Linked DNA regions of Homo sapiens: all the other regions are linked to region 1. The links come from fine-mapping of genetic effects on gene expression. A gene starts in region 1. Each other region holds a variant in brackets. All regions are shown on one strand. Distances are between the middles of the regions. Region 1 holds the start of ZNF772 (zinc finger protein 772). Region 2 holds the start of VN1R1 (vomeronasal 1 receptor 1). Region 3 overlaps ZNF749 (zinc finger protein 749).

Evidence for each region.
Region 2: its variant is fine-mapped to the expression of ZNF772 in whole blood (INTERVAL, PIP 0.95).
Region 3: its variant is fine-mapped to the expression of ZNF772 in whole blood (INTERVAL, PIP above 0.99).

What each region holds. Positions count from the first base shown.
Region 1 is chr19:57,472,166-57,482,725 of GRCh38, forward strand. It overlaps ZNF772 (zinc finger protein 772), which reads right to left and starts at 5,401. Exons shown (of 4, transcript NM_001144068.2): 1 at 5,112-5,401; 2 at 4,469-4,507; 3 at 3,495-3,621; 4 at 1-2,256. The coding sequence starts at 5,144. The coding sequence ends at 1,109. RefSeq lists enhancers at 4,602-5,125, 4,716-5,915.
Region 2 is chr19:57,448,769-57,459,328 of GRCh38, forward strand. It overlaps VN1R1 (vomeronasal 1 receptor 1), which reads right to left and starts at 8,372. Exons shown (of 1, transcript NM_020633.4): 1 at 6,022-8,372. The coding sequence starts at 7,718. The coding sequence ends at 6,657. The variant G/C (reference allele first, on the strand shown) is at 3,812.
Region 3 is chr19:57,439,192-57,447,533 of GRCh38, forward strand. ZNF749 (zinc finger protein 749) reads left to right here. Exons shown (of 3, transcript NM_001023561.4): 2 at 2,694-2,820; 3 at 4,100-7,910. The coding sequence ends at 6,294. Among named protein-coding and RNA genes, the nearest start is that of ZNF749, 8.0 kb to the left of the region's middle. The variant A/G (reference allele first, on the strand shown) is at 4,685.

The DNA of each region.
Region 1 (10,560 bases):
CCCTATAGTTTGCTGCAGTTTTCTCATTCCTTTATTAATCTGGGTTTCTGCACCAACTATGATTCCTACCTGGGCCTTCTGGAGGACAGCCAATATCAACTGCCTACTGAAAAATAGACTTCAGAGATCTTGACATGTCCACTGAGTTCAAATTCTCCTCAAGAAGCCTTGGGAATATGAAGTATCTTCTGGGAACAAGGGACGTAATTCATGTTGCTCCCAGACACATTAGAGATTATCACAACAAATGCCCACTGCTTAGGGTGACCTCAATTACACAAAAAATCTTAACATATAGACCAAAAGATTAGGCCTACAAAGACTGGCATTCTTTCCTAGGAGAGCTGAAGCAGTCAAGTAAGTTAGCTTGACACTAGCATAAGAGCTAGTCTTTGCCATCCTACTATCACTTCAGAGATACAGATAGTTGGAGCTCTCACAAAAGCTGTTCTTCCCTTCATACTGGCTTAGCTCAATTCTGTTCTCAACCCAACCCACAAAGCGAACAGAATCCTCAAGATTTCAGATAGTCTAAAAATTAAGGCATTTGTTGCAAAACCAGAATATGAGGCAGCCAATTTCAGGTCAGGTGTCTTGAAGGCTAGAAAAATTCGTCCCAAGTGCCATGTGAGATCAACTATATCCATGAAGGGAAACCTCTGCCAGTGGTCAGCAGAACAAAGCTCCCATTTTTCTGGCTAAAACTGGGTCATGCTCATGCTTAAACCAGTAGTGGGGCAGAAAAAAAGTGAGAATCCTTGATGGCCTCAGGCTACTGATGATTCCCTCCAGGGAAGGGAATAGTACAGAGGTCTGTCTTTTGAAACACATTGGGGTTACTTTGGCACAAGGCAGGACTCTTCCAGCACAAAGACAGATGGCTTCTAACAGGCACTGCCTTGACGAAATTCCAGCAAGAGTCTAGAAAATTCAGCATAGCTCCAGAAGGCTTCCCATATAGCTGGCACTCGGAAGAACCTCCCCAGGGTGAGTGTTTGAGTGTATAAAGTTCTACTTCTGGCTGTCGGCTACACATAAAGGCTATGCTTGGAGCTTCTCTCTGATGTCAGTTATTATGTTGAACAAGGAAACGGAATTATCTCCCATCCTAAGGCCTTTCTCCAGTGTGAATTTTCCAGTGGCGGATGAGGGAAGCCCTCTGCCTGAAGGCCTTCCCACATTCACTGCACTTATATGGCCTTTCTCCAGTGTGAATTCTATGATGCTGAACAAGTACATGTTTGTGGCTAAAGGCTTTTCCACATTCACTGCACACATAAGGCTTTTCACCATTATGAACTCTTTGATGTGCAATAAGGTCAGAGCTTTGGCTAAAGAACTTCCCACATGCGATGCACTCATAAGGCCTTGCTCCAGTATGAACACTCCAATGTTTAATGAGTCTGTATTTGTGACCAAAGTATTTTCCACATTCGCTGCACTCATATGGCCTTTCTCCAGTATGGATACTCTCATGCTGAACAAGTGTAGATTTGTGACTATAGGCTTTCCCACATTCACTGCACTTGTAAGGCCTTGCTCCAGTGTGTACTCTTTGATGTACAATAAGGTTAGAGCTATGATTAAAAACTTTCCCACATATGCCACACTCATAAGGCATTTCTCCAGTGTGGATTCTCTGGTGCTGAGCAAGTATGGGTTTGCGGCTAAAGGTTTTCCCACATTCACCGCACTCATAAGGCCTTTCTCCAGTGTGGACTCTCTGGTGTTGAACAAGTGAGTCTTTGCGGCTGAAGGTTTTCCCACATTCACTGCATTTGTAATGCCTTTTTCCACAGTGAGAGGCCTCCTCACACTTGGTGTTGCTGTGTGGCTTCCACTCATTGTGAGGGGCATGGTGCTCGAAAATGCTTGAGCTGGCTAGGAAGTCCTTACAAGCCTCCCCTGTCACAAAAGACATCTCCATTGATTGCACAGCACAGTTGTTCAGAAGAAAGGGCCTGCTCTTATCACTTCTAAAGGGTTTCTCTCCACTGTGCTGCTTCTGGTGCTGGTGAAGGTTTGCACTGAAGCAGAACTGTTTCCCACACAGCACACACATGTATGGTTTCTGCCCTGGGTGTGTTTCCTGGTGCTCAGCCAAGTGCAAAATGTCTTTTAAGACCAGGCCACATGTCCCACAGGGGTAAGCCTTCTGAGTAGAAGGACCTCCCTTGGGAATCCTGATCTGTGACATTCCTATAGAAAAGCTCTGCTCAAAAGGTATCTCTTCATCCTCCATTCCATGCCAACAACCTGAAAGCAGAGAAATGCTGGTGAAGTACAAATTGACACAGGTGGAAGAGGGGAAGCCTCACTACAAATATGTGTCTAACACAACTAAGACCAAGGTCATAGGACTGTTGTTAGGACAAGGGTCCAAACTCAAGTTCAGCAAATGTGTACTATACGGTAGTTGGCATCTAAATGTCATAGAATGGAGAAGGCCTCAACTGGGAGAGGACAAAGATGTGGGGTACAGCACAAAAAAGAGGCAGGTCTCAAAGTCATTCACAATCAGATTTTCTTGGCTGCTGGGGACAGGTGAGAGTTGTGCAGAAGGTTATGGTCCATACCAAAGAAAATCAAATTGCTACTCAGTAGTTGGTGTTTAAGGACTATTTGGGCTACACATCTCATGAAACACTAAGTACAGGCCAATGCTGGAAGGCACTGTAGAACAAGCCATGGAGAGGAACAGGTGAGACATGAAGGCAGAGGTATGGAACATCCAGAGGCCAAAGGCCAGAGTATGAAAGGCCAGTGGCCTTAGCACTAATACAACTGTAGGCACAAAGAGGCTATGGAATGATATGAACCCAGCCCTGACATCACACCTTTCCCCAGCTCCTACTCACCAGGGTCACTCCCACCTGGAGTCTCTGTGGCAACAGCTAGGGTCATGTCCACCCAGTCAGGTACCCAGGGCTCACTACCCATCACCAGTGAGGCAACTATGTGGGACATGAAAGATGTATGTCCTAAGGGAAAGATAGAACAGCACTGGTCTGGGTAACCCATATAGAAAACTAAATATTATTAAAATAATCTCAGAGTAAGGTCTTGCAGGAATAGTGCAGTGGTCCTAGCAAGTAGCGACCATAATGGTCCCTACAATTCCTGACATAGGCAGGCCACAGGAAATGTCAGCTAAAGGAAGAGCGCAGAATCCCAGGCACAGAGGTGTCATGGATACAGACAGAGGAATTCAGACAGGGAAAGGACAAGATGGATATGACCCACTGGGCTGACAATACAATGCATAACTCCTGAATCCATGCCTGCAAGGCTCTGAGACAGCAAGCGCTGGGAATGCTCAAAAGGAGAAAGTAGGAGTGCAAACAGCCCAAGCCCAGCACTCACAGAACCTACTCCAGGCACTAAGAAATGAGACAGTGTCCACGGCTCTGATGTAGGAAGGACAAAGATGCCCTGAAAAAAAGGGGAAGGGCAGGACCCAGTCCAAGTCACTGGGGTGGATGTGACGGCCTTACCCAGAGAGGCCATAAGTGCAAAGTTCTCCAGCATCACATCACGGTACAGGAGCCTCTGAGCCTCATCAAGGAGCACCCACTCCTCCTGGGAGAAGTACACGAACACGTCCTCAAAGTTCACCTGCCCCTGCCACAATCAGGAGAGCCAAGTCCATGAGCAGCATCTCTCCCAAGAACCCCCATCCGTGCCCCCACACATCTCCCTCCTGTACACCCTCCTACCTAACTCCTCAACTCAGGAAATATCAGGACCAGATGTCATTGGTGTCTTCTCTCGCCTCATGGTCCCAATGGATCACTGTGTCTACCCATAGCAACCACAGGCAGGTGAAGAAGTTGTCACCCTCTAAGCTCTGTGCTTAGCATACAGGGCCTCACCCTTCTGTAAGCAAATTCCTCTGGGGTCACTAACATCATGCTTACCAGACAACCAAAGATGGGCTTGCCTTTCTCCTTTAAGCCCAGACGTCATCAGTCTACACTTCTTTCCATATGTACATCACTCTTTGGATCACAGTTATCTCACAACTCTGGCTCTCCACCATCACTTTCCTGGCTCACTAAATGCACTACCACTGTGAAATGAATATTCTCTTTTAACTCCCAATCTACATAATCATCTTTAAGCCATTTCAGGATGATTCCCGCCCCCTTGCTCTTGGTTCCCACCAGACATGACAGAGACCTGCAATTTCTTGAAAACTCCCTTCTCAGTCTCACCTCTAAGTATTTTGCACAGGCTGGTTCCTGTGCCTGGAACAACCTTCCAACCTTATTCCAATGGTTGGCAGAAATGGAAACCCCTCCATAAAACCCCTGGCCCGGAGTCAGGACCCTGGGCTTGGGGCTTCTCCAGAGTCCTCAGACCCAAGAGATCGGAGAGTAGCAGGAGAGTGTTCTATATAACACCACAATGCTGGAGAGCGTATTGGGTGGGGGTGGGATCGGTGAGAGCATGGACATTCTCCCCTCACCTGTATAGGGTCCACAATTACTTCTGAGTTCATGGGAACCTGTGGGGAAGAGGGAGACTATGCGAGTCAAGCAATCTTGAAGGAACCCCAAAGGCTCAACCCCATCCCATATTCCTACCCAGTTACAATGTGCCTGGGAGCTGAATGTCTACCCTCTGTGCTTCCATCTTCAAGGATACCTCTTAACTGTGTTAGCTCGGAACAGTGCTCATTATCCGCCCCCATGGCCAACAAGAGTCTGCCCTCCATGAGCAGTCTATGGAATACTTTTTAAACCCTCGGATTCTGGCTCTCCTCTGTTCAGAACCTTCCATGGCTCCCATCACCCTCAGAATAGAGACCCAGCTGCTCAGGATGATATTCCAGGTGCAATCACTTATAAAGCGCTCTGATCCTTTCAGACACTAAAGGCCCAGTTTTCCCAAATGCTCCAGCTGTGAACCATCTCTGAGCCTTTGCATACACTGGTCTCTCTGCCTGGAACGTCCTTCAACTCGTGCTGTCAAAATGGGTCCCAAACACGAGCGCCCCCACTGTTCTAGATACAGGGGCCTGAGCTGCAGTAACCCGAGGAATCGTTCATTCGAAGCTTTGGGATTCAGAGATGGGGGTCAGCGCGCAGACTCGCAGACGCAGCACCCACCTGTGCCGGGCCCATCGGCTCAGCCGCCGCCATCAGGCCTGTGGACTACGGAAGGGTGGCGACAAGTGCAGGAACCTGGGATCAGCTGTCCAGGGCCCAGCCCAGCGGCTAGGTCACTCAGGCAGCGCCACTGTCAAGCCTCAGGCCCACCTCTCTTCAGGGAAGAAGACACTCTCTCACGTTTTCCCTTTTCTGTCACCTCAGGTCTGACATTGCGTTCTGGAAACTAAACCAGTGGATTAATGGAAAAGCAAACAAAATGTCCACCCGAGGATGGTAGAGGAAGTCCCGCCCTGACGTTGGTGAGGACCAACGGAAACGCCTATTTCCTGGGTTTTCATTGGCCCAGAGCCGCCAAGTTTCCTGGGTAATGTAGTTCCCACGGCACCAACACTAGTAAGCGGCGTCTCGCTTCACCTCCAGGTTAAAAGCCCAGAGAAGACCGCCAGGGGCGCGTGGAAATGGTGTCCCTCGTCTCCAAGGCCCAGACGGAGCTTAGCTTCCTCTTGAAGGAGCCATATCTGTATTTCTGGTGAACGTCGTGTTTGACATCAAAGGAATGTTTAGAGACATGATTTCAGCCTTCCTTACGCAGAGAATGCTCATCAAAAAATAAAATGGACACACCATACACTGACGTCACTCAGATTTCTATGGCTGGAAGTTAACAAATATTGTTTTCAAATGCGTGTAGCCTGATGCTCCAGAGTTAGTTTGGCGAGCCTCAGCATTTTCTGTCAGGCACAAGAAAGAAAAGACTCCAGACACCATGATGTGGAACGTGGAGTGGGGATGTTTGGTGGCCTTGAAGTAAGTGAATAACCCTTCTGTCTGTTACCTCAGAAAATATTTATCCTGCTTATACAGCAGTGATTGTGTCAAACCCAACAAGTAATACTCTTGTTCAAGATAGTATTTCATACTCCATATACAGAGATGTATTCAATATTTTAAGTGTTTTACAAGTGTCTGAAAAGACAGAATTCATCAAATGTCATATGGCAATGAAAAGGGCAACATGAACACTTTCTGTAAAGAAGAAATAACCACCAAACTAGATGTCTATACACAACAAAATGTCTTTTATGGAAGTGTGATATAAAACTATTTGAAACCAAAAATGATAAATGTAATGGAAATACATTTACACAAAAAATAATGTTTAAAATAATACTCAAGGCCAAAGAAAGTTGATCTCAGGTGAAAAGTCTGCAATGAGAGAAGAAATGAAGATGAAAAGAAGTGCATCTTTTGATTAAAATAACAGCATATTACAGTGTAAAACATAAGTAGATATACTTATTGAGTTAGAATGATGGAATTCCCGTGCGTAACCTCAACTACATATAAATTGAAAGGAGGCTAGTTGCTCAAAGTTTTAAATTTTTTATATTTCCAAGTGGAAAGCAAATGTATTACAATCCTGTATGGCACGCTAATGTGTTAAACGTTTGTAATTTTTAGCCTAAATATAATAAATACAGTCAGCGTATATACTTTTCAAACTAGAAGAGGAAATGTTTGGAATATAAATAAATAATCAATAGAAAGGTAAAATAATAGTAAAATAAGTGGAAGAAGTGAGGCAAAGAAAAGCACAATGTAGGATATATTTAAACTGTCAACCTAAATAACAGAGATTCTTCAAAGATGTTGAGTTCATTCAGGAATGCACAGGGGATTTGCAAATCCAGGACATGCAGGCTATAGGGACTATAGGCATATCCAGAGAGCTTGAAACAAGGAGAAGCTTTCAAAGGCAAAAGGGAAAAGTATATATAATTTGTTTTGAGATAAAAAGAACATTGGTCACAGATGTTTATGGCAGAGGTTAACACCAGTTCATTAGTGGAGACAATCTGTCAGGCAAGTGTTCTACTACATCTAGAGCTGTCCTTGTAACTCCTGTAGCAAGCTGCGGTTTGAGAAGTTCTTGTCAAAACTTCTTTTAACGGGAATATGTGCATTAAGAGCCCTCAGAGACAGTAATAGCTCTTATCTTAAGCATGTGTGTTTGAGTGCCCTCTTTTCTCAGCCTCCTGGCTTTATTTATTTATTTACTTATTTATTTATTTTACACAAGTTACTCATTTTGGTTTTGACAACTTTTGCAAAACCTAAATGACTATGCAATAAATACTCAAATAAGCAGTTAGTAATTTTTGATGGACCAAAACACGCTTCACGAGGTATTCTCTTTTCTTCAGTGAATTTCCACAGAATTTGAATTGTGATTGAAAGCACAACTAACATTCCCAGACTCCCTACTCTGTCAGTAAGAAAAGAATCATGTTGTAGTTAGAAACGTCCAAAATCTGCTTTAGAGAAACCAAGACCTACGCTTGAAGGTTACCAGGCCCTTGACTCACCCAACTGGGCTGAGATGTCATCAGGGAACTGCATATCATCAGCATCTTCTGGTTATTCATACAGGGGTGGGATAAGGATGACAATAATTTACATTTAATAATGTCCATATCCTAGACATTCTATCAGACCTTTTATAAACACTACGCACTTTTGCCCTGTAAAGTGGATTTGTCACCTAAATTAATATGAGGAAACTGAGGTTTCTTGGGTCTATAATTTATTTTCAGCTGTAGCTGTTAAGTGGCATAGTTGGCAATGGAGTCCAAGGAGCCATGACTAACTACTTCCCAGCATGGCCTCCTACCCTAGGTCATCTATCTGGGTAGGTTCAGAGCCCTTTCTATGTTAGACAAACAAGGCTATGAAAAATTCAATGTCCCAGGCAGCTGACATGAGGACAAGAATGTGTCTTGCCTTTTCTTCACCACAGAAACATGAACCTTCAGCTTCATTTATTCCCTAAACGTGGGTTCCTTGGATGCCAATCAAGAATCAAAACAGGAAAAGTCCTGCTGGCCCACAAATACAGAGGGTTTGATAGGTGAAATGTTATTGCCTGAGCCTCACCGTATCATCCCAACCACCCACATATCCTGTTACCTCTGCCTCCTAATATGTCTCAGGTCATCTTCTTCTCAACACCTCCAATTTCATGCCCTTGGGCCAATCTGCCAACATTCCTGAGCTACACAATGCCTTCTGCCTTGTATCCTACATCAGTTTTTTCTCTACTTTAGTTCATTCTCCACATATCATGCAGAAGATGACTTCAACACAAATCAGGTTCTATTTGGGAGAATCAGAAGCATGTTGGTGGCTAGAGGGGGAAGGGCTTCCCTCCAAACTTTAGTGTTATAACATGGTTTAGGGTTATAACCTGTCCTGCATTTTCAGTGGTCCCACCAGTAATTTCTATGTTGTCTTTTTTGTCAGGCTCATTGCTACTGTCCAGCCCCTAGGATTTCTTCCTCAGCAGAGGACTCCTGTAATGCCCCTGACTCAATCCACATTCTCTTCCTCCTCTCTCCTTTACAGCAAGAACTAAAATCATTTCCTTGCAGACCTAGGCCAGCGAACAGGAGATTCACAACCATGTTATCGATTTGGTGCTGCCCTTCACACTTCATGGAACATGAAAGCTCAGTGAGGGTCTGAGTCCACTTCCCAGCAGAGAGAGCATAGCCATGTGCCATTTATGTGAGAGTGCAATCTTGGTACATTTAGAGTAACTGTTTAATCCAATATGCAGATGGATGGTGTTCAATTAGGAATTCTCAAAATTTTTTTAAAAAGAATTCTCAAATAAAAATCTCATATAATTCCTATTCCATTTAAAGCCAATGATTTTGTTTTCCTGTGCTTTGAAACTAGAACATCCTTGTTGTCTCAATCCCAAGACGGAAGCCAAGCTAAAAAACAAAAGGAGCAGGACTTCACAGAAGCCCTAAGGCTCAATGAAGGATGGGCCATTGCACATTGCACAGTCTTTTTAAAAAAACAATAATTGTACTGCTATCCACACATCCTTGTGAGTCATTTCTCATCAGACATATATTCTAAGCCATATGCAGTACATACAGCTCTAAATTCTAGTAATCATCCTGACAGAATTCTAATGAAGGAGGTGGATGAGCATTTACCAGATTCAAATGAATGCAAACTGAAAAATAGGCAAAACTATGTTAGATGACAATGTAAGAAATCAGACATGCCACAAATTAGACCTCCTTGATGGGTGAATGACTTACAGCGGGGGTTACAGAAATGCTGGTATGGCTGGGCGCAGTGACTCACACCTGTAATCCAGTACTTTGGGAGGCCTAGGTGGGCAGATCACGAGGTCAGGAGATCGAGACCATCCTGGGCAACATGGTGAAACCCCGTCTCTACTAAAAATACAAAAAATTAGCCGGGCATAGTGGTGCGTGCCTGTAGTCCCAGCTACTCGGGAGGCTGAGGCAGGGGAATCGCTTGAACCTGGGAGGCGGAGGTTGCGGTGAGCTGAGATTGCACCACTGCGCTCCAGCCTGGTGACAGAGTGGGACTCTGTCTCAAAAAAGAAAAAAAAAAAGAAATGCTGGTATACTAACACTGTTCTTTTTTGATTGGCACACTGCTTTTAGAGATGTGTTGACTTTGGGAATATTCATTGAGCTGTACAACTACATGTTAATTTTTGTGAATGTCATTTGTAAATTAAAATTTACCAAAAGTTCATGCTAACAAACCCGAAGTGCCTATTCCATATTGTTATGCAGGCTGGATGTGATGGCTCATGCCTGTAATCCCAGAACTTTGGAAGGCCTAGGCAGGTAGATGGCTTGAGCTCAGGAGTTCAAGACTAGCCTGGGCAACATGGCAAAACTCGTCTCCGCAAAAAAAAAAAAAAACTAGCCAGGTATGGTGGCTTGCACCTGTGGTCCTAGCTACTTAGGAGGCTGAGGTGGGAGGATTCCTTGATCCTGGGAGGTGGAGGTTGTGGTGAGCTAGGATGGCACCACTGCACTCCAGCTTAGGCAACAGAAGGAGACCCTGTCTCAAATATATACGTGTGTGTTTGTGTGTGTGTGTGTATATAATTCTCCAATGTAGAATAATATATATATTATTCTCCAATGTGGAATAATAATTAATAATAATACTAATAATTCTTGGGCATTTACCCAATTGAAATAATAATTCTTGGGTATTTGCCTGATTGAAATGAAAAACTGTCTTTAAGAAAAATTCGGCTCTTCTCCCTTTAAGACCAGCTCTGCCTCTGCCTCTGCCTCTGCCTCTGCCTCTGCCTCTCCCTCTCCCTCTCCCCTCTCCCCTCTCCCCTCTCCCCTCTCCCCTCTCCCCTCTCCCCTCTCCCCTCTCCCCTCTCCCCTCTCCCCTCTCCCCTCTCCCCTCTCCCCTCTCCCCTCTCCCCTCTCCCTTCTCCCCTCTCCCTCTCGGTCTCCCTCTCCCTCTCTTGCCATGGTCTCCCTCTGATGCCGAGCCGAAGCTGGACTGTACTGCTGCCATCTCGGCTCACTGCAACCTCCCTGCCTGATTCTCCTGCCTCAGCCTGCCGAGTGCCTGCGATTGCAGGCGC
Region 2 (10,560 bases), 23 kb before region 1:
CCATAGCAGCTGCACCATTTTACATTCTCACCAGTGCAGGGGTTCTAGTTTTTCACATTATTGCCAACACTTTGTTTTTTAATCATGATGGGTGTAAGATGTTATTTTATTATGGTTTTTTAATTTGCATTTCAGTATTGGTGTTGAGCATCTTTTCATTTGCTTGTTGACTAATTGTATAGGTTCTTTGGAGAAATATCTGTTAAATGTCTTTGCCCATTGAAGAAAGTTTTTGTAAATTTTCAGATAACATTGTATGCTTTTGTTGTGTACAACATGATGTGAAGTATATATACTTTGTTGAGTGGTTAACATGTACGTATTATATATGTACATATTCTGTATACGTATTTTAAATATTAACCCCTTGCAGATATGTGTTTTTCAAATACTGTCTACCATTCAGTCTGCTTCCTTTTCATTCTGTTCATGTCTTTTTTTTTTTTTTTTGCACAGGAGTTTTCAAATTTCAATGGAGTCCAATATATGTTATGTTTGTTTCCTATGCTTTTGGTATTATACCCAAGAAATTATTGCTAAATCCAGTGTCATGAACCTTTTTTCATGTTATTTTCTAGGAGTTTTATAGTTTTAAGTTGTACTTTTATGTCTGATTTATTTCAGTTTGTTTTAGTAAATGGAGGAAGGTAAGAGTTCAACTTCATTCTTTTGCATATAGATATCCAGCTTTTTGAAAGTCATTTGTTGAAAAGACTCCTTAATAAGTTTTTGCGCTCTTGTCAAAAATCTGAGCATAAGTATGAGGACTTCCGTCTGGCCTCTTTATTCCACTATATGTATGCATTTGTGCTAGTACCAAGGTGTTTTGATACATAATTCTTTTAAAAGAATAATGTTTCTGTCCACTGTTGAGGCCCTTGCTAGAGGCTTGACAGTGCTACATTTGGAACAGCTGATTAAGTACACTTCCAACCACTTTCCTTAACAGGCTGTCAAACTCTGGGTCAATATATATCAGCCCCAGTCACCCCAGGAGCAGGTATCAGACATCTGGGGACAACTCCTATGCCCTGAAATGTGTAAAATTACTCAAATTGGCCAAGTATAGAAAGCCCAGAAAATCTAGCTAACCCGAATCCACTTGCCACACACAAGCTGCCTCCTACAACTCCAGTTTGCTGTATTACTATCTATATTCCTTCACAACTCCGGTGCAGCCCTGAATCATGTCCTCTGGTTCTGAGTTGTAAGTTACAACATGCTCCACCTTTCATCTATCTGTCATGTCATGTCCTGACATCAAGAAAACTTCTAAATCTTAAAACTACATACCCAGAAGGGTATCATGAGTGCAGCGAATGTTGGAAAGTCTTCAGCCATTAACCTCATTCAGCACCAGTAAACCATCTTGGAGAAAGACCTTAGGAATGCAGGCAGGCAAAGTGCTTTTGCCAGCAGATAAAATAGTAAAGCTGTGGATATTAGCTTTTGTGAGGGAGACCTCAACCAGAAATGGAATCTTACATCCAAACATCCACACAAGGGAGGTTTGTTGTAATTGTCTGCTATATGAGAAGCTTTTGTGAATTACCTTGCACTTTCTGACCTGCCTGGGATCCTTGCCAGTGTTAAGTCACTGAAAGTGTGTACTACAAAAGACTTCCATCCACTATTAGCTGATATCACAGTGTGTATCACCTTAAAATGCTTAGGGAGGGCAGATAGCTGTGCTCTCTACCTTTATCTGGAGTTATTGAGTCTGATCCCTTCGGGCGAGGCCTCATTCCCACTTCCATGGCTGGTTTGGGTGCAGACATCATCCAACTTTGGACAGAGGATACAGGCTGGCTTGAGCTGGCAGCTTGTAAAGATTTTCCTTTCTTCATGGGTATTATTGCTTGTCTTATAATGTTGGTGATAGATTTTTCACCTTCCAAGCTGCCCAAACCCAGTCAATTTCCACGTGACTATACTGGTTTTAGTGATGATAAAGTCATTGTTTAAGCTACATTTACTCATTGCAGTTTTATTCTCTGTGTGCTGTGGGTTGAGAGCAAAATTGGAGTCTGCCAAAATGAAAAAGTGAGTGGTTTTGTGAGGTTTTCAATTTTATGTACTTCCAAGGAAATAGCAAAAACAAAAAAACCAAAAAAAAAAAAAAAAAAACAACTCAATCCACAAACGCCTGATGTATATTGCTTCAGAAGGTTCCTGGGAAAAAGAAGGATTTCTATCCAAAATCCTTTACCCTGAATTTGAAGATTATTTATGGTTGCACAGTCAGCTTGCAGCCAGGACAATTGGTTTGACAACTGTCAGGATTTATGGCAGCTGTGAGAGCTGGGTATTTGTACCCATGCATGTCCCATATTCTCCAGTATTGTTTAGGGATAGCTTGCTCCTGTGATGTGCCTTATGAGCTATGTGTCTTGAACCCAAAAATGATGTAGGTTATGTTCCTGGATGTAAAATGTAAGAGTGCATTAGTTTGTTGTCCATTGCTTATAAAATAATACCTGAAACTGGGTTATTTATAAAGAAAAATCTATTTCTTACAGTTATGGAGGTTGAAAGGTCCAAGGTTGAGTGGCCGCATTTGGTAAGAGCCTTCTTGCTGGTAGACTGTGCAAAAAGTCCCAAGGTGGTACAGGGCATCACATGGTGAGGCTGCTGAGTGTGCTCACATGTTAACGTGCTAGCGCAAATCATTCTCTCTCTTTTTTTTTTTTTTTTTTGAGACGGAGTTTCGCTCTTATCGCCCAGGCTGGAGTGCAATGGCGCGATCTTGGCTCACTGCACCTCCGCTTCCTGGGTTGGCTCACCGCAACCTCTGCCTCCCGGGTTCAAGCAATTCTTCTGTCTCAGCCTCTTGAGTAGCTGGGATTACAGGCATGTGCCACCACACCCCGCTAAGTTTTTATTTTTAGTAGAGCAGGGTTTCTCCCATGTTGATCAGGCTGGTCTCGAACTCCTGACCTCAGGTGATCTGCCCGCCTTGGCCCCCCAAAGTGCTGGGATTACAGGCAAGAGCCACGGCCCCTGGCCCTTTCTCTTCTTATAAAACCACCAGTTCTCCCAGGATAACCCATTAGTCTATCAACCCATAAATTGATTAATTCATTCCTGAGGATAGAGCCCTCATGATTCAATCACCTCTTAAAGGTCGCACCTCTCAGTACTACCACACTGTAGATTAAGCTTCAATGTGACTTTTGGAGGAGATGGTCAAACCATAGCAAGCAGTTTGGGAACCATAGTCTGTACAGAAACAGTGATTGTATTAATATGAAGTATGAGACACCAGCAAACTAGAGTGGAATGGATGAGCGCCTTGTAAAGAGACATCCATGAATGTTTCAGTAACTATGGCTATGTGAGATGAGGGTATACAGAAACTCTGAGGACCTACAGACGTGTGTATCTCCTGTAGGCAAAGTCATTGTCAGAGCAAGTAATCCAAAGGTGTTATGGATTCTTGTGTCTCTGGCGTTATAAAACGTATGTTGAATTTTAATTGCCATTTTAACAGTGTGGAGAAATGGGACCTTTAAGAGGTGATTAGGTCATGATGGCTCTGCCCTTATAAAGGAATCAATGCCTTTATCATAAGAGTGGGTTTGTTAACCCGAGAGTGACGTTTTTATAAAATCAGCTGTCTCTGTCTTTCATGCTCACTTGCCCTTCTGTCATATTATGACAGAGTAACAAGGCCCTCACCAGATGCCAAGCAGATACCAGTGCCATACCCTTGGACTTCCCAGCCTCCAGAACTGTATGAAACAAACTACTTTATAAATTACGCAATCTGTGGTGTTTTGCTATAGTAGTGGAAGACAGACACAGACATAAA[G/C]CCTGTTAATTCAAACCACTACTGCACAGGTAGGAGCCTCATGACTGAATGAAGGGAGATTCTATACTTCTGAGATAAGTCTTTTTTTTTTTTAAACCTAAACATAATTCCTGGTGACTCAGGTGGACATAACCTTCCTTGTCTCCAGTTCTTCTTCCCCGAGATTCTGAATTTCCAACAACATTGCTTCCAGTTTTTGATACTATAAAATCAGAGTTGACCCACGTAAGACATGAGGAGAGGCTAATGATGGAATCAACACAGCTTTGCCAGAGGTTATAAAAGAGGATTGAGAAATCCAGATTTTATTTGGAATTTTTCTTTTCTAACAGCTTTATTGAGGTATTAGTGACATTCAGTTGCACATTGTTAAAGTGTAAAATATATAAAAACAATCACCAAAGTCATGATAATAAACATATCCATTGCCTCAATAGTTTGTTTGTACCCTTTTCTATTCTCTCTCGCTCACAGTCCTACCCAAATTTTTATGCTCAGGTAGCCACTGGTTTACTTTATGTCACTATATACATCTTTCCTTCCTTCCTTCCTCCCTCCCTCCTGCTCTTTTCTTTTTCCTTTTTTCTTTTCTTTTTTCTTTGTTTCTTTCCCTCCCTCCTTCTCTTCTCCTCTCCTCTCCTCCTCTCCTCCTCCTCTCCTCTCCTCTCTTCTCTTCTTTCTCTTTCTCAGAATTTCACTCTTGTTGCCCAGGCTGGAGTGCAATGGCACGATCTCAGCTCACCGCAACCTCCACCTTCTGGGTTCAAGCGATTCTCCTGCCTCAGCCTCCTGAGTAGCTAGGATTACAGGCATGCGCCACCACGCCTGGCTAATTTTGTATTTTTAGTAGAGACGGGGGTTTCTCCATGTTGGCCAGGCTGGTCTCGAACGCCTGACCTCAAGTGATCCACCTGCCTTGGCCTCCCAAAGTGTTGGGATTACAGGCGTGAGCCACCATGCCCGGCCTATAAATTTTCTAGTATCTTATACAAATGAAATCCTACATTACATTCATATGGAGCATTTTTTGATATTTATACATGTTAAGCGTATTCATTTTTTGTTGATGAAGAGTATTGCATTGAATATACCACAATTTATTAATCTATTAATAAATATTTTGATTGTTTCTAGTGTTGGACTAAAAAACTAACAAAGACCCATGAACATTCATATACAAGTGTTTATATGAATATATTTAGCAGAATTGCATTTGTTATACCTCCTTGTCCATGATGGTTATGGTGTATTTTAAAGATTAACCATTTTCATAGATGTGTTGTGGTCAGTGTGGTTTTTAAATTTGCATTTCTCTAATAATTAATGATGCTGAATAAGTTTTTATATGCTTATTTGTTATCTGTATATTTGGCCAAATTTCTAAATCTTTTCCCTTTTTTTAAAAAAAAATCTTATTTTTCTATTTTAATAGAGTTTTAATTTTAGAACATTTTAAGATGTACAGAGAAATTGCAAATATAGTACAGAGATATCTCATTTACAAGCACACCTAGTTGTTACTAATATATAGTCATATATTAGTATACAGCATTATTTACAATTAGTGAAACAGTTTTGATACATTATTAAACTAAAGTACATCTTTGATTGAGATTTCCTCAGTTTTTACCAAAATACATGTTCTGTTCCAGAATTCCACCTAGGATACCACATTGCATTTATTTTATTATTTTTTATTCTTTTATTTATTTTTTTTCATGTGTCTCTAAATGTAACCACATTACAGTTAGTACTCACATTTCTTTAGGCTTGTCTTGCTTATGAGAATACTCATTTATTTTGATATTGATTTTTAATTTTTTTTTTTTTAGATAGTCTTGCTCTATTGTCCAGGCTGGAGTGCAGAAGCACTTTCTTTCTTTCTTTTTTTTTTTTTTTTTTGAGACGGCGTCTTGCCCTGTCTCCCAGGCTGGAGTGCAGTGGTGGGATCTCGACTCACTGCAACCTCTGCCTACTGGGTTCAAGGATTCTCCTGCCTCAGTCTCCTGAGTAGCTGGGATTACAGGCACCTGCCACCATGTCTGGCTAATTTTTGTATTTTTAATAGAGATGGGGTTTCACCATGTTGGCCAGGCTGGTCTTGAACTCCTGACTTCAAGTGATCTGCCCACCTCAGCCTCTCAAAGTGCTGGGGTTACCGGCGTGACCCACGGTGCCCAGCCACTTTTAGTTATTTTTATTTTTATTTTGAGTCTCCCTCCGTCACCCAAGCTGGTAAGTAATTCTCGTGCTTCACCCTCTGGAGTAGCTGGGACTACAGGTGTGTGCCACATGGTTGGCTAATTTTTGTATTTGAGACAGGGTTTTTGCCATGTTGGCCAGGCTGGTCTCGAACTCCTGGCCTCAAGTCATCTTGAGTGGATCACTTGAGGCATTTGGGAGTGCCTCAGCCTCCCAAAACGGTGGGATTACAGGCGTGAGCCACTGTGCCCGGCCTGCACATGTCTTTCTTACATGTGGACTCTCCAGGGGATTTATGCTGTTCAAGAAGCACCTGAATCAAACTGTGCTTTAAAAATATTTTTAAAACATTCCATGATTCTTCATAGTACAAAAATGAGAAATCTCCCCTAAATCTCTAAAGAATTCCCTTTTTAAACTTTTTGATTTCCTGAACTTGTCTGAAGGACTTAACACAGTTATATAGAGTGTTCTTTGTGTAACAGTATCCATGACTTTCATTTTTAGCTCTGGTATTAGATCTTCCTGGACAAGAGCATTACTGGCCATGTGTATGTTGCTATCACAAATAACTAGTAGTTAATATTTCCTAAATCTTAGCAAGAGTTATGATAAATAGCTGAATTCCATGAAGAGAAAAGACTCATGGCATGACAACCAGATTAGGAAAGAGTGTTTTCCTTGTCCTGCAGGCAAAACAGAACTGAGAGATATGAGTATCACTCATGATGAGGACAAAAGGGCTGCGTGCTGGGAAACATGAGGCGACCAACACAGAGTTGGTCACTATCCACTGGCCTGGGTTTGCAACTACAGTTGTCCAAATTGTCAGAAAACTATGGACTGAATAGAAAACAAAAAAGGAGCTCACCAGGACCATGATGGTGTGTGTGGCTCTGGCTTCCTGGGAAGGTCTGCAGGAGAGTCTGTTGCTGTGATTGTGTTGGACTTGCTGCTTGTGTCTGTAGAGGAAGAAGACCATGGAGCCACTGGCCCAGACCATGAAGCCCAAACTCATAAAATCAGGGGAAAAATATAAGACTGCATGTAATGAGCTAAATCTCTTTGATGCTTTGTAAGAACAGTATCCATAATTGTTTTTTGCACTACTGTTTTTGCTATTCAGTGGGCCATTCACTAATAGAAGAACAGATGCATTCATCAAGACATGGGGGGCCCAGCAGAGGAGACAACAGAAGTCAATAAACCTTGGGGATCTAATCTTGATCTCCATCCACCTGCATATACTGGGGTTGAGCTTAATGGCTTGGAATCCATTGAGAAGGCAGATGGTGCTGAGGGAAACTCTTGTGCCCACCCTGTGATAATAAAAGACAAACTTACATCCAGTGTCATTCAGCAAATATTTCAATCCAAAAGCTGCCATTGTCTGAGGTATCCCTTTAAAGAAAAGGACCATGGAGTTAGCCAAGGCCAGTTGGCTGAGAATCAAGTCCGTGGGTCTCAGCTTGTGTCCAGTGAACAAAATTAAGTTATAAAAACAAAGGAGAAAGGAATTTCCCAGGATCCCAACTCCAGTCTGAATGAGGAAGCTAATCCCTGATTTTACTTTTCCAAAAGCCATTTCATCAAAATCTAGGGGATGTTGATTTTCATTGAGGTCTGAAGAATCAGTAGAATAAAAAAGCAGAAAGAAGTATCTTGTCATCAGTGGAGACAGAAGTTTTAATGTGTCTCCAACCATATTTTCTCATCTTAAACAGAAATTAAGATTGTCCCTGTTCGTGCAAAGGCAATTGCTTGTGTGTCCAACTGCAGAGAAGCAGGTGAATGAATGAGGGCTCAACCGCACAACAGATCCACAAATCAAACCTATAAAACTCAGGGCTTACACACATGCAACAAGTAAATACAAGCAAAACTAGGGAAATATATAAAAACAGAACACAGAAGAGTCAATATCATTAGAGTGATATTATACTATAGTTTGCAAAATGTAATCATGACGGAACCCTGGGTAATATGGACAGGGCTTTTTCTGTATTATTTCTTATGACTGCTTGTGAGTCTACACTTATTTCAATAAAACCTTCAATTAAGTAGCCTGGAGATATGAAAAGCAAAAATAATACACCATAAAACCTTTTCCACACTAATATTTTAGTAAACACCATTGTTATTGATGCATTGAAACAAATTTTAGGCCGGGTGCAGTGGCTCACACCTGTAATTCCAGCACTTCGGGAGGCCAAGATGGAGACCATCCTGGCCAACATGGTGAAACCCTGTCTCTACTAATAATACAAAATACTAATAATACAAAAATTAGCCGGGCATGGCGGCGCGTGCTAGTCCCAGCTACTCGGGAGGCTGAGGCAGGAGAATCGCTTGAACCTGGGAGGCAGAGGTTGCAGTGAGCTGAAATCAAACCATTGCCCTCCAGCCTGGGCGACAGAGCGAGACTCTGTCTCAAAAAAAAAAAAAAAAGAAATTAAAAAAACGCTACAATACAATTGGTAACAAGGCCTTCAGCACAGTACAAATGCTAACTTGAAGAATTTTTAAAAACTATAATTTTTGGAACAATCAACATTGCATCATGGTATATTTTATTTTAAGCACATATATTTCTGTTATTTTCCACCGGACAGGTCTAGAGATTGTGAATTGACTCCGTAGAAATAACCATGACCACCTTGAGCCCACACATTTTTATCTCAATGCCATTTCTCACAAGTAAATGCAAAAGATCCTGAAAATAAATACTAATCCCAGAAACACCTAAGATATCCTTAAAACTTGTTAAATAGGAAATTCAATATGTTCCAGAAAGCTTGGGTTTATTTTTAGGGAAAGATAATTCAATTGGGAGGGAATTTCATTGCACAATATTCATATATATCAATCACAAAAGAAATAGTAACTGCGGCCAGGCACGGTGGCTCACGCTTGTAATCTCAGCACTTTGGGAGGCTGAGGCGGGTGGATTACAAGGTCAGGAGATGGAGACCATCCTGGCCAACATGGTGAAACCCCGTCTCTACTAAAAATACAAAAATTAGCTGGGTGTTGTGGTGCGTGCCTGTAGTCCCAGCTACTCGGGAGGCTGAAGCCTCCTGGGTTCACGCCATTCTCCTGCCTCAGCCTCCTGAGTAGCTGGGACTACAGGCGCCCACCACCACGCCCGGCTAGTGTGTGTGTGTGTGTGTGTGTGTGTGTGTGTGTGTTTAGTAGAGACGGGGTTGCACCGTGTTAGCCAGGATGGTCTCGATCTCCTGACCTCGTGATCCGCCCGCCTCGGCCTCCCAAAGTGCTGGGATTACAGGGATGAGCCACCTCGCCCGGCCATAATTTAGATTCTTTTGGTGTCTCTATGGAATTGCTATCATCAGGGAAAATTATGAGGTATTTTCTCCCATGAATAACTACATCTCTTTAGGGGTGGAGCAATCAATAACACAGCAGTATCAAGATTCTCAGGCGAGAGGTGGCTCACGCCTGTAATCCCAGCAGTTTGGGAGGCCGAGGCTGGTGGATCAGCTGAGGTCGGGAGTTCGAGACCAGCCTGACCAACAGGGAGAAACCCCGTCTCTACTAAAAATACAAAAATTAGTCAGAGGTGGTGGCGCATGCCTGTAATCCCAGCTACTCGGGAGGCTGAGGCAGGAGAATCGTTTGAACCCCAGAGGCGGAGGTTGCAGTGAGCCGAGATCATGCCATTGCACTCCAGCCTGAGCAACAAGAGTGAAACTCGGTCTCAAAAAAAAAAAAAAAAAACTCAGGCTCTGAGGTATGAAAACCTTTTAGATTCCCACAAACCACTTGTTGACAAATGTTTTTCCTATTTATATGAACTCATCATTTATTTTCAAGATAGTTCCTGATTCTTTGCTTTAATCTCTTATTTTGCTCCATTGTCCTAGTTGTATAATTTATTTCCAATATGCATTTGGTTTCCTATTTTTTCAGCTTCTCCTTATAAAGTACCATTTTTACTATGACTATTTTGAAAGCTTCTTGTATGTATAAAGTTAGTGTGATTATTGACTTTAACATACCACCTCCTTCTCCTCCTAGCCTCAGAAAGAAGTGTTGGTAACTGGTGAGAATTTTCAGACAGATTTTCCTTTTTTTTTTTAATTTAATTTAATTTTTTTTTCTTTCTTTGCTTTCTTTTTTTTTTTTTTTTGAGACAGAGTCTCACTCTGTTGCCCAGGCTAGAGTGCAGTGGCGCTATCTCGGCTCACTGCAAACTCCACCTCCCACGTTCAAGCGATTCACCTGCCTCAGCCTCCTGAGTATCTGGGATTACAGGCGCCTGCCACTGCGCCTGGCTAAATTTTTTTTGTATTTTTAGTAGAGATGGGGTTTCACCATGTTGGCCCGGCTGGTCTCGAATTCCTGACCTCGTGATCCACCCACCTTGGCCTCCCAAAGTGCTGGGATTACAGGCGTGAGCCACCGCGCCAATTTAATTTAATTTTTTAAAGTTCCAGGATACAGGTGCCGGATGTGTAGGTTTGTTACATAGGTAAACGTGTGCCATGGTGGTTTGCTGCACCTATCAACCCGTCACCTAGGTATTA
Region 3 (8,342 bases), 34 kb before region 1:
CAACAGCCCAGGTGGAGGTTGTTGGTGACTGAACGAGAGTGGCGGTGGTGGAAGTGGGAGGAGTGGGGGGCTTCTGTATGTGTTTGATCTAGAGCTGCCTGTATTTTATAACGTAGAGAGCAAGGAAGCTTGGGAGCTGAGATGGAAGAGGGGGTCAGGAATGGCCCCACAGTTTTGGCCTTATTTGGAAGGATGGATGTCCCAGCAACTAAGATGTAGTAAGTTCTGTAGTAGGGGGAGTGTTTATATAGTAGAGCATATGAGGAACCAAGTTTTGGCCAAGTCAAAAATGTTCCAGTGGCCAGGCATGGTGGATCACACCTGTAATCCCAGCACTTTGGGAGGCAGAGGTGGGAAGATTGCTTGAGGCCAGCCTGGGCAACATAGGGAGACTCTGTCCCTACAAATAATAATAAATAGCTGGGTGTGGTGGCGTCTCTCTGTGGTCTCAGCTAATCGGCGTGCTGAGGCAGGAGGGTCACCTGAGCCTGGGAAGTAAAGGCTGCAGTGAGCCATGATTGTGCCCCTGCACTCCAGCCTGGGCAACAGAGTAAGACAAACAAAAACAAAAATCCAAGCCAAAACAAAAACAAAAATACACAAAAAATGTTTCAGAGACTTTGAGTGGAGGTGCCAGGCTGGCAGTTGTACACACAGGAATGGAGTTCATTGGAGGTGTTCAGGAAGGAGACATCCACTACATGATAGCTGAACTGTTGTGAAACTGGGTCAGATTTAGGAAGCAATGGTGTTAGTAGGAAGGAAGGAGAAGGAACAGACTGAGGACTGGGTGTCTCCACTGGGCACCTGGATGGTGTTGGTGGGTGTCACAAAGACAGATGAGAGAGTGGATCGACTGAGGGTATGTGTGTGTATGTTTGTGTGTTATGTTGGGGGCAGCCTGTGGAGTATAAGGAAGGGCTTTTGAGGGGAGAGTGGCCATGAGATGGATGGTGAGGCATCTCCACAAACTCACCAGGGTTTCATGGTGAGTCTTGCTTGGACCTGGGTAGTTTCATGCAAACTGTGAGACTACTTTAGGGGAAGATGGGATCAGCAAGGAGCATTGCTAGGCCTGGGGTGGGGATAGCATTGGGGAGGTCAGTGTATCTGGGCTTTGGATTAGGATTAGGGGGATAGAGAATGTTGTGACTGCTTATGGGAAAACATGTACATTGCAAAAGGGGGAGACAGCCAAGATCTGGAACTCAGAGGAGGTATGCAAGAACTGTGAGGTTGTCACTTGGGTTTTGGGGGGGCTGAGGTTAAACCAGAAAACAGGACTGGGAAGGGAGACCTTCAGAACAGGGCTCGGTGCTGCCCCAGGCGCTAGGGAACATTATATTCTGGGCAGCCCAGGAGCAAATAGGGTTCTGGTGCACTGCAGGACTCCATGTACAGAGTGGCATCTTGGGAGGCCATGGAAATGCTCCTGGTTGGGCCAGGGCTGCTGTTAGTATTGCAAGAGTGGAGGCATTAGATACATGAGAGAGGTACTGTCCAAAGCGAGATGCGAAGGTGAGGAGGAGCATGAATGCGTGGTCCCAGCCCTGGCAATGGGCACGTAAGGGAGAAGAGTGAGCCTGAGTTTGGGTGTCTGGGAGGCAAGATCTGGAGACCCCAAGGAAATGGGGTGACAAAAGAAGGTAGGGCCGGCCGGGCGCAGTGGCTCATGTCTGTAATCCCAGCACTTTGGGAGACCAAGGCAGGTGGATCACGAGGTCAGGAGTTCGAGACCCGCCTGCCCAACATGGGGAAACCCCGTCTCTACTAAAAATACAAAAATTAGCCGGGAGTGGTGGCAGGTGCCTGTAATCCCAGCTACTCAGGAGGCTGAGGCAGGAGAATTGCTTGAACCTGGGAGGCAGAAGTTGCAGTGAGCCACTGCACTCCAGCCTGGGTGACAGAGCAAGACTCTTGTCTCAAAAAAAAAAAAAAAAAAAAAAAGAGGGTAGGGCGCCCTGGGCTAGGCATTGATGATGCTTTTGCTTTCTCCCCACCCATCTTTGTGCTGTGCTGGACTCAGCAATCAGTAGCAGTGGGGGCGAGAGAAGTGCGAATGCTACCAGGATGTGGAGTCTCTTCCTCCTTGGGAAGTGGGTGGAGGCTAAGCAGGGGATGGATGTGTGTGGGTACTGGGGAAGCACTGAAGATTCTGGAGAGGGAAGTGTATCAGTGATTGACCCGCTGGATTTTCATTTTTGGAAAAGAGTGAGTGATGACAGAGAGGCTAATGGCATTGAAATAATTTTAATTACTTTCATTTCCTTAGTGCAGGGGGAATGCCGTGCTGCACCAGGCCACGGGAAATACTAGATTTGGTTAGGAGGCAGAGGCATGACTGAAGGGAAAGCATATATCAGAGACTGTATTGGGGTTTTGGCAGGAAAGGCATGCAGGGTGGGATGAGGAGCTTAAAACTCAGTGGTTTGCATAAGTCTGGCAGCCTTAGGGCTAAGAGATTATCCCTTATTGTGTGGTGACAGGGCTTGTGTTGATTAGGACAGGAGAAATAATCATGTATGAGCATTAGATAGTGGTTCAGCATATGGGATCTGGATCGCAAGGGAAATGTAAAAACATTGGCTGTTAGTTTGGCCCTCCAATTCTTAGATTTTAAGTAGATAAATACAGATCTAAGGAAACACAGAATAAGAAGTTGTTCATAGACTGAAGTGTCATAATTTTGGCAGGATTGTATGGTCTTTGAGGATGTGGCCATATATTTCTCCCAAGAGGAATGGGGGATCCTTAATGATGCTCAGAGACACCTGCACAGCAATGTGATGTTGGAGAACTTTGCGCTTTTGTCATCAGTAGGTAAGGCCTTCATACCTACTCTGGTGTCTTGTGCTGGGTGCTGTTTTTTTGCTCTTTTCCATGACAACTCTGTCTTTCCCACACCAGATTGTGAGTGCTACGTCCTGTCCTCTCCTGGTTTCCTGGCAAATGTGATAAGGCAGCCAGAGCTGGGCTGTGTATACTGTACCACCTCCCCTTAAGCAGCCCCAGCTTCTGTTGCTCTGAAACTTTACAAGATAAGGCTCGGAAGTCAGAAATCTTCAGGTTTCTTTAAGATATCCTAATGGCGGTGCCTGTCCCTGGTTTGATTACTCTGTCCAAATGTGTGAAACCTCTGTCCAAGGGTTTCCCTGTTCCCCTTGCTGACATACTTGGAGACAGTGTCTGTGCTAGGAATTTCAGGCACCTCCCTGGTCACCACTTGTGAGGATTGTGAAGTTATTTCTGCAGGACGCTCTACTGGGTGTTCTGGTAGCTTTAGAATGCAGCATGTCCTGGGTTTATTGCTCTGTGTACATGCTGTCCCCTCCCTTTCCCTGCCTTTCCCGTAGCTGGACTTATGCCGCAGCTAGATAGTTGCTCACCTTGAGCAAGGGGGAGGTCTCTGGGTGCCTGGCAGAGTGGATAGTCCTCTATTAATGGCAAGAGACACTCAGAAGGACTTGGCCCTGGTGGGTGAAAGCTGGGAAAGGATGTGATATCAAGGCTGGGTTCAAATCACATTGAGAACTTACCTTGTGACCACTATTGTTTGATGCAGGGCCACTGGCCACTCGTCACTCTTCCTTTCCTTCCCTGTTGTTATTTTTACTCTGACTTCTGACCCCTGGCTTCCACCTCTGACCCCTCCTCTCCAGCCTTCATCTCTCCACCATTCTCTTCCACCTCTCCCTTTGCAGTGCTGTCTAATGTATGACCTGTACTTTAGGTGTTATGAGGTCTGCGTGTATCCTTCAGTAGTCCATGAATACTCGCTCTCACACAATCAGATCTCTCTGGATCTGGACACAACCGTCATGGCCTGTTGAAAGCCATTTATAGAGGAGTGAGTTGGAGACCCCACCTGCCCTCCCTGCATGGTACTTCTCCCTTGTGTCCTTACCACCAGGATTCCCCCACTACACACACTTCACAGGCCCACCTCTGAACACTGGGCCTTCCTCTCACTGGCCTTATTTCCTTGCCTGTGACCAGTCCTGTGCCCTCATTTGTGGGTGTGTCTCACAGACATTTGTGATGGGGCTGTCTCCTCCCTCCGGAGTTCACGTGCACTTCACCAGCATTTCTGTTCTTACAGGTTGTTGGCATGGAGCCAAGGATGAGGAGGTACCTTCCAAGCAGTGTGTTTCTGTAAGAGTGTTACAGGTCACAATTCCAAAGCCAGCTTTGTCCACCCTGAAGGCCCAGCCCTGCAAGATGTGTAGCTCAATTCTGAAGGACATTCTGCACCTGGCTGAGCACGATGGAACACACCCTGAGCAAGGGCTGTACACATGTGCAGCAGAGCATGACCTGCACCAAAAGGAGCAGATTAGAGAGAAGCTCACCAGAAGTGATGAGTGGAGGCCTTCATTTGTGAACCACAGTGCTCACGTGGGAGAGAGGAACTTCACATGCACGCAGGGTGGCAAGGATTTTACTGCCAGCTCAGACCTTCTCCAGCAACAGGTCTTAAACAGTGGGTGGAAGCTGTACAGGGATACCCAGGATGGGGAAGCCTTTCAAGGTGAACAGAATGATTTCAACTCCAGCCAAGGTGGGAAAGACTTTTGCCACCAACATGGGCTGTTTGAGCACCAAAAAACCCATAATGGGGAGAGGCCTTATGAGTTCAGTGAATGTGGGGAATTGTTTAGGTACAACTCCAACCTTATTAAATATC[A/G]GCAAAATCATGCTGGAGAAAGGCCTTATGAGGGCACTGAATATGGAAAGACCTTTATTAGAAAGTCCAACCTAGTTCAGCACCAGAAAATTCACAGTGAAGGCTTTCTTTCAAAAAGGTCTGACCCCATTGAACATCAGGAGATTCTCAGTAGACCAACACCTTATGAATGCACCCAGTGTGGGAAGGCCTTTCTTACACAGGCTCATCTGGTTGGTCACCAGAAAACCCATACTGGAGAACAGCCCTATGAATGCAACAAGTGTGGGAAGTTTTTTATGTATAACTCCAAACTCATCAGACATCAGAAAGTTCACACTGGGGAGAGGCGTTACGAGTGCAGTGAATGTGGGAAATTGTTTATGGACAGCTTCACACTCGGTAGACATCAGAGAGTTCATACTGGAGAAAGGCCTTTTGAATGCAGCATATGTGGAAAATTCTTTAGTCACCGCTCCACACTCAATATGCACCAGAGAGTTCATGCTGGCAAAAGGCTTTATAAGTGTAGCGAATGTGGGAAAGCCTTTAGCCTCAAACATAATGTTGTTCAGCATCTGAAAATTCATACTGGAGAACGGCCTTATGAGTGCACTGAATGTGAGAAGGCCTTTGTTAGAAAGTCCCACCTAGTTCAGCACCAGAAAATCCACACTGATGCATTTTCAAAAAGGTCTGACCTCATTCAACACAAGAGGATTGACATTAGGCCAAGGCCTTATACATGCAGTGAATGTGGGAAGGCCTTCCTTACACAGGCTCATCTGGTTGGTCACCAGAAAATCCATACTGGAGAACGGCCTTATGAATGCACTCAATGTGCGAAGGCCTTTGTTAGAAAGTCCCACCTAGTTCAGCATGAGAAAATCCACACTGATGCATTTTCAAAAAGGTCTGACCTCATTCAACACAAGAGGATTGACCTCAGGCCAAGGCCTTATGTGTGTAGTGAATGTGGGAAGGCCTTCCTTACACAGGCTCATCTAGATGGTCACCAGAAAATCCAGACTGGAGAACGGCGTTATGAATGCAATGAATGTGGGAAATTCTTTTTGGACAGCTACAAACTTGTTATTCATCAGAGAATTCACACTGGAGAAAAGCCTTATAAATGCAGCAAATGTGGGAAATTCTTTAGATATCGCTGTACACTGAGTAGACATCAGAAAGTTCACACTGGAGAAAGACCTTATGAGTGTAGTGAATGTGGGAAATTTTTTAGAGATAGCTACAAACTCATTATTCATCAGAGAGTTCATACTGGAGAAAAGCCTTATGAATGCAGCAACTGTGGGAAGTTTCTTAGATACCGCTCTACATTCATTAAACATCATAAAGTTTGCACTGGGGAGAAGCCTCATGAGTGCAGTAAATGTAGGGAATTGTTTAGGACTAAATCGAGCCTTATTATACATCAGCAGTCTCACACTGGAGAAAGTCCTTTTAAGTTAAGGGAATGTGGGAAAGACTTCAACAAATGTAATACTGGTCAGCGCCAAAAAACTCACACTGGAGAAAGGTCTTATGAGTGTGGTGAATCCAGCAAAGTGTTTAAATACAACTCCAGCCTCATTAAACATCAGATAATTCATACTGGAAAAAGGCCTTAGTGGAGTGAATGCAGGAAAGTCACCAAAACTGTCACCTCATTCAGCACCAAAAGGTTCACATCGGACCAAGAACCTATTAATATATGTAAATCTAATGTTGAAAGAGTTCAGATGGAAATCTGCGAGGATTTCCTGCTGGGAACTACATTAAAAACATTTATGTCCAGGCGTGGTGGCTCACGCCTGTAATCCCAGCACTTTGGGAGGCAGAGGTGGGTGGATCACCTGAGGTCAGGAGTTTGAGACCAGCCGGGCCAACATGGTGAAGCCCCATCTCTACTAAAAATACAAAAATTAGCTGGGCATGGTGGCAGGTGCCTGTAATCCCAGCTATTCAGGGGACTGAGGCAGGGAGCATCACTTGAACCTGGGAGGCGGAGGTTGCAGTGAACTGAGATTGTTCCATTGCACTCCAGCCTGGGTGACAGGGCGAGACTCTGTCTCAAAAAGAAAAAAATTATAATTGTGGCAAATTACAGGTAACTTAAAATCTACCATCTTAACCCATATTTAACTGTACTGTTCAGTAGTGTTAAGTCATTCGCATTGTTGTCAATTAATATCCAGAAGTTTTTTCAACTTAATGAAACTAAAACATTATACCCTTTAAACCAGGGGTCCACAACCCCCAGGCTGCAAACTGGTACCAGTCTGTGGCCTGTTAGGAACCGGGCCAGCATCACTACCTGAGCTTCACCTCCTGTCAGATGAGCAGCATTAGATTCTCATAGCAGCCTGAGCCCTATTGTGAACTGTGCCTGTGAGGGATCTAGGTTGTGTGCTCCTTATGAGAATCTAACTAATACCTGATGATCTGAGGTGGGACAGTTTTATTCTGAAACTGTCTGCCCCCTCCTCTGTCCCTGATGCGTGGAAAAATTGGCTTCCATGAAACCAGTCCCTGGTGCCAAAGAGGTTGGGGACCGCTGCTTTAAACTACTCCTCTTCCTCATTCCCTACGCCAACCAGCCCCTGACAATACTACTGTATGAATTTTACTATAAATATCTCATATGAGGAAACTTAAGTTTTAGTCTTTTGTGACTTATTTTGAGGCTTATTTCCCTAAATGTCTTCAAGGTTTATCCATGTTGTAGCATAGCTTATGATTTTCATCTTTTTTAAAGGCCGAATAAAATCCCATTGTAGTCATGTGTCGCCTAACAAGAGGACTGTGTTCTGAGTAATCATCTTAAGGTGATTTTGTCATTGTGTGAACAAAGAGTGTACTTACACAAACCTGAAGGGCACAGCCTATTACGCACCTAGGCTATATGATATGGTCCATTGCGCCTCAGATATAAACCTTAACAGCATGTTACAGTATTGAATATTGTAGGTAATTGAAACACAATGATAAGTAAATGTGTATCTAAACATATCTAAGTTTCCAAAAGGTACTGTAAAAATGTATGAAAAATGGTAAAAACTTTATAGGGCACTAACATGAACGAAGCTTGCGGGACCCCTCTGGTTGAGTCAGGGAGTGAGTTGTGAGTGAATGTGAAGCTCTAGGACATTACTGTACCCTATTGTAGATGTTATAAACATTGTACACTTAGGCTACTCTAAATTAATTTTTTCTTTAGTAATAAATTAACCTTAGTCTACTGTAACGTTTTTACTTCATGAACTTTTAAAATTTTAAAAAGCTTTTTGACTCTTTTGTAATAATAGCTTAAAACACAAACACATTATACAGCCTGTATAGAAGTACTCCTTTATATTCTATAAACTTTTTCTATTTAATTTTTTAACTTCGTAAAAAATAAGTTAAAAATGAAGACACAGACACACACATTAGTCAAGGCCTACAGAGGGTGAGGATCATTAATATCACTGTCTTTTGCCTCCACATCTTGTCCCACTAGAAGGTTTTCAGGCTCAATAACAGGGAGTTGTTATCTCCTATGATAACAATATTCTGGAATATTTTCTGAAGCCTTGCCTCACACTTTTTTTTTTTTTTTTTTTTTGAGACAGAGTCTCGCACTGTTGCCAGGCTGGAGTGCAGTGGCACAATCTCGGCTCACTGCAACCTCTGCCTC